Regions from separate parts of the Homo sapiens genome. Here region 2 is linked to region 1. The links come from fine-mapping of genetic effects on gene expression. A gene starts in region 1. The other region holds a variant in brackets. All regions are shown on one strand. Distances are between the middles of the regions. Region 1 holds the start of SNURF (SNRPN upstream open reading frame). Region 2 overlaps SNHG14 (small nucleolar RNA host gene 14).

Region 1 (2,819 bases):
CTGTAAATGCAAGTTCTGCACATCATTCCAGTCTTCTTATGCCATAGCCTCTAAAGCGAGGGTTCCTAAAGGGTACGCAAGGATTCCACGCATTTCTGCAGCCCCTGCGGCAGTGTAGGCATTGCGCAGTTTTAATAAAAAAGCACCACCACCACAGTAGGCAAACCAGATGACCATCGCAGGTCACAGGAAAATTAAAGGCTGCGGACTGTGCTACTGCCCCTTCTGATGCCCCCTCCTCTACACAGCAATCATTCAGCGTCCCTTAGTCACTCCGGACAGCGACAGGCCCCGCGGCCGCCATGCCCACCGCCTCCATGCCATGCCCACCGCCGCCATGCCTACCGCCGCCAAAGTCCACCACCGCCATGCCTACCCGCTGCCAATGCCCACCGCCGCCAATACCCACTGTCGCCGCCTTCCCCCTACCTCCCAGCCACTTCCTACGGACTCTCCCCGCGCCGCGACCACCAACACAACCCCCACCACTGTCACACCGACTCATCCCCCTGGTCCACTGCCATAGCCTCCTCGCCTCGGTCACTGCGACGAATTCCCCCCCCAGTCGCCCCACGTACCCTGCTCCACCACGCAGTGGTCACTATTATACACCTACCTGCGCTCAACACCCCCTAAATACCGATCACTTCACGTACCTTCGCCCCGCCACAATCACTCCAATATACCTACCTCCGCCTAAAATCCCTATGCACTGGTCCCCCCACGTACCCTCGCCACACGGAACTGCAATCACCCTGATGTACCCACCTCCACCCATGTCCCTTGCCCACTGCGGTTACCCCGCATGCTCCCAGTCACCACCGCCCTTCCCACCGCAGACACCCGCAATAGGACCTGTCGCGACACCACAGTTGGGGGCGGATGGGGGACGCGCCCCAATGCGAGCGGACAGGATACCATCGGGGCAGAACGGCACAACAGCAAGCCTCTGAACATTCCGGATCTGGTTCTCCAGAACAAAGGACTTTAGGGCCCAAATTCCGTTTATTCAGTACTCCAAGTCCTAAAAACTTGGAATATCTGATGAATAAAAGTGGCCGCTCCCCAGGCTGTCTCTTGAGAGAAGCCACCGGCACAGCTGACCTTGCCCGCTCCATCGCGTCACTGACCGCTCCTCAGACAGATGCGTCAGGCATCTCCGGCGGCCGCTCCACTCTGCGCCAGACTCGCTGCAGCAGCGGCAGGCTTCGCACACATCCCCGCCTGAGCATGCGCGCCAGCCTGCCTCTGCGGCCGCGCAGGCGTGCTTGTTTGCCGCAGTGCAGGGGTCCCAGCTCCCTCCCTCACCGGAATGACCTGGGGGGAGGGGGCTACTGGACCCCTAGGGCCCCACAGCACTGTTGCAATGAGAGGGGGCCTCTAGAAACCATAAGCAACCTGGGATCAATGGACATGTCTACCTGTTTTTTAAAATGTGTAAAATACTAAAGAAATAATTCTTGGTTCTACAATAAATTTTTGCACACACCACTGGCCAAACAATCCTAATTTACACTCACCCTCAGGTCTTCCTATGTGCGGTACAAAAAAGCTGGTTTGGAAAAGTTAAATGCGCCATAACCACAATCAATGCAAATACGCCAGACTTGAAATCCTTCCAAAAGAAAATATCCCTAACTCTAAAAGCATGCTACATTGTTCAAATTTGGTGCGATTTTTCTACCCTTTTTCTACTTTCTACATTTTGAGGGGGTAAATTGTGAAAATTATCTCCCCCAAAATCACAATATAATTAAACTCTCCTATACGGAATGGATAGATCATTCAACTCAAAAACACTGGCTATTCAATTTTTGTAAAACAAAAATATGAACTTAGACCCCCACCTAAGATCTAAGTAGGAGAGCCTTTCTTTGCCTATTAGAATTGGATACATTAAAATTTTTACCAATAATCAATGATAGCTGGAGTGGGGAGAAACAGGCACTTTTATATAATACTAATGGACAAGTAAACATTATTTACGACATAATATTCTATCTGCAGAAATAACGGAAGCATCAGTAACTCCAAAATTTAGACGCTGATGTAGCTTGGGAAAAGACACTGCAGAAAAGAAGAAAATAATCCTGAAACTGCATCTGCATAGTTTTTACACACATTTGCCCTTTCTCAATTGCCCATTATCGAAGAAGGGAGGGTGATGTGAGTGGAGGTTGACTAAATGGTTAAATCCCCTCCCAAGCCCTGTAAGCTACTGCTCAGTTCCCAATGATCCTACATTAAAACAGGTGCGCAGAGGCTTATCAATGCTGACTTCTATCGTAACAAAATCTCAGAAACTGTGTAATGTTCCTCACAGAGAACAGATAGGCTAACTAAATAAACGTATATATAAATAATAACATGCAATATGGCTGATGGAAAAAATGATGTATTAGGCTGAATCATATAAAATTGTCAATATTGAATTGTTTTGACCTACAAAAACATTGCAATTTCTAATAGTTCATTGATACATATTCACATAAAATAACATGGGAAGTTGACTCTGATCACGGGAGTCAATCGAAAAATAAAATGTAGGCTGGGCACAGTGGCTTACGCCTGTATTCCCAGCACTTTGGGAGGCCGAGGTGGGCAGATCACGAGGTCAGGAGATCGAGACCATCCTGGCCAACATGGTGAAACCCATCTCTACAAAAAACAGAAAAATTAGCTGGGCGTGATGGCACATGCCTGTAATCTTAGCTACTCGGGAGGCTGAGGCAGGAGAATTGCTTGAACGTGGGAGGCGGAGGTTGCAGTGAGCTGAGATCACACCACTGCACTCCAGCCTGGTGACAGGGCAAGACTCC
Region 2 (2,819 bases), 35 kb before region 1:
CATAAAACAATTATTTAGAAACTTCAAACACTGTATCCTCAAATGCACATAAACAAAATGCCTTTTTTTCTAATTAACGCTTCCCATGTCATTTTCTATTACCCTTATGCACTCAAAAAGTGAATACAGAATTGTGTATATCTTTAAAAGGTGACCTGAGAATTCCTTTCTAACAACTGTTCCAGAATAAAATTCTAGCAAATAGAAGCTTCCCCAGGAAACCAGTTATTTAGCCACAGCAACTACATTAACAAGCTTAACAGATTCATGTTCAAAATCTAAGTGTTTGCTTTTAACTAATTACATTCCAAGATTATGCAAAAAAATACAACTATTACACATTTAATTTCACTGTCTGGCTTACCTAAGGCACAATGAACAATTCATACACATTTATCATTCAATGTGTATCTTACATTCTCATTTCAATACTATTATCTAAACATAATTTTCCCACATATTTAAACAAACTCGTAAGCTAAATGTCCACGAAAAAAAGTTTATATTATTTGAATATTTGGAGCTCTTTCACAATGCTAGCAGGAGTTGGGGAATGATGTCCTTATTGCATGTGCACACAAGTATATCATGTGCAGGGCTTTTACTGGTAAATCTTCCAAAGGCGAGTGGACTCTCCATAGCAAGAAAAAAAATATTATTGGTTGATGAAGTTCAGGCAAGTATCAATCTATCTTTCTTTCTTCCAAGGTTTTCTAGCTGATGAGGCATGTAGCTGAATTCAACATGTTATCCTTCCCCTTCTATCCATATATTCCTGCAGGGTTGGCTTGTCAACTTGAGTTTGTACAGACTACCCAAAATATTTCAAGTTTTATATATTTGAAATGTTTCTCAATTCAGTAGATAATTCTTTATGCACCTGCCACGCTGTGACTCAGACGGCATTCTGGGGATGAATCCGGATTGAGAGTTGCTGTTCTGATGTTGTAAGGAGCACACAAATAGAGTAGATCTGGACTATGGCTCTACAGAGGACCCTGGCCAAAGACCCTTTAAGGCAGACATCTCCAAGGGGGGTTAGACTTCCACCGCAATCTAGAAATAAAAATGCTCCAGAAGAATCTGTAAACTACAGTTTTCTCCATGCTGGGGTGGTCACTCAGACTACTCACTCCTGTTGATGTATTTCAGTGAAAAAATGGTTCATAAATCTACCCTAAATCATATGTTGCAATCAGTGTTTGTTGCTGCAAAAATTTCTGAAAATTTTTAAGGATGAGAGGATTAGAGTGAGGGAATGCCACAAAATATACAAATCCAAATGTTTGGTGTCCACAAGTGGGTGGTTTCCAGTGTTTATTGTGGCAAAAGATGTTCTAAATATTATAAACGTATGCAATCGTTGTCCTCTTCCTTGATTATTGCTCATTTCTAAAACTCTTGAAACATGACAACTGCTTATTTATTAAGAAAACCTGA[G/C]AAGGTTTGTCTTGTTTTCCCCAAATCAGCTCTGCCAGATAGATGAACTAAAGAACCTGAGGTTAGCAGCAAGGGGAACAGTTGAAAGTATGTGAATACAGTTAAGATGACAGAGCCCTCACAGGGAAGAGTAACTTCAAATCAGTTCTCTAATGGGGTGAACAGTATCTTTTGTACAGTAAGTTTCTAAAGGAAATAATCCTGGTCCATCTTTTTTAAGCTGCAATTTAGCCCATGAATGAAAGCTGTTTCCTTGCTCCTTAGCTGGCATTTCCTTTATACGTCTCTTCAGAATTGACAGTCGAATGTATCACAGTGATCTTAAAAAGATGTTTCTGAATGTAAATGAGTTTGAAATATTTCACAAATTTACTTTCTGCTTATTTTCTTGTTCAATTATCTGTTCATGATTTGTCCATTTTCAGAACAATTTTTCAAGCCTTTTTGTTCACAGAGTTGTAGATCATATTTATGTACACTACAGGAATCAACAGAGTAAATAACCAATATATTTTGCCAACCCAAATATAATAGATGCATTTACATTTATTTTTATGTTGTGAACTACTCTTAACACACCAACAAGTACACCCTCTTATCCTCTCCAACAGCAATGACCTCTTGATTTCCAACAGGTTTGCTCAAAGGACAAGTTCACGTGAACACATGCTTTTTTTTTTTTAACCTGGAATATTTATTCTCCAGTGAGCTAGCCTGAAGCAGGTGGAGGCATCCAATAAAATACAACCTTAAGGAACTACCTTTTCTATTTTTAACAAACCCCGAGTCAGAAATCTGGCAATATCTTAGGAACCTCTCTACTTGATGAAACAGACAACTTTAATTTAAAGCAAGACAGTATGTCCCAATTCCCTACTCTCAGCTATGTGGTACAATGAAATGCCCTTGTTCTTGACCTAAACCCTAAAAAAGAATGGAGGAAAAAAAATCAGGGTGAAACTGACGGCCATACTTTGCCTGTACTCTACTAGAGGGCAAATTTGTTATACTTTCTTCATTCATATATTGACTCTACCAATGACTGTGGTAACAACATACCAATGAAGCAAAAATTGGCTATCCATCAAACACATACTAGATGTTAATTATTACACTAGGCCTTGAAGACAAAGCAGTAAAAAGTACAGTCAAGGCATCTGATAAACCGTTAATGTTTCTTTCTCCCTATAAGGGAAAAATATCAAAAAAGTCAGTCTATTTAGCCTTTTGGAACCATATTTCCAAATTCTGCTATGTACTCATCTTGGACAAATGAAAAGCATTATTTCAGTAAGTCAAAGCTTTTAAAGAAGGTATCATCATTGTGACTTAAAACAATTTCTAAAGGATGGATTTTTTGGGTTTTGTTGCTACCTTGA

Evidence for each region.
Region 2: its variant is fine-mapped to the expression of SNURF in whole blood (TOPMed, PIP above 0.99).

What each region holds. Positions count from the first base shown.
Region 1 is chr15:24,953,348-24,956,166 of GRCh38, reverse strand. SNURF (SNRPN upstream open reading frame) reads right to left here and starts at 1,180. Exons shown (of 3, transcript NM_001394334.1): 1 at 1,105-1,180. The coding sequence starts at 1,118. SNRPN (small nuclear ribonucleoprotein polypeptide N) reads right to left here and starts at 1,180. Exons shown (of 10, transcript NM_003097.6): 1 at 1,105-1,180. All of the region lies in intron 4 of SNHG14 (small nucleolar RNA host gene 14), which reads right to left. RefSeq lists enhancers at 1-199, 200-765.
Region 2 is chr15:24,988,801-24,991,619 of GRCh38, reverse strand. All of the region lies in intron 15 of SNHG14 (small nucleolar RNA host gene 14), which reads right to left. Among named protein-coding and RNA genes, the nearest start is that of SNORD108, 3.3 kb to the right of the region's middle. The variant G/C (reference allele first, on the strand shown) is at 1,441.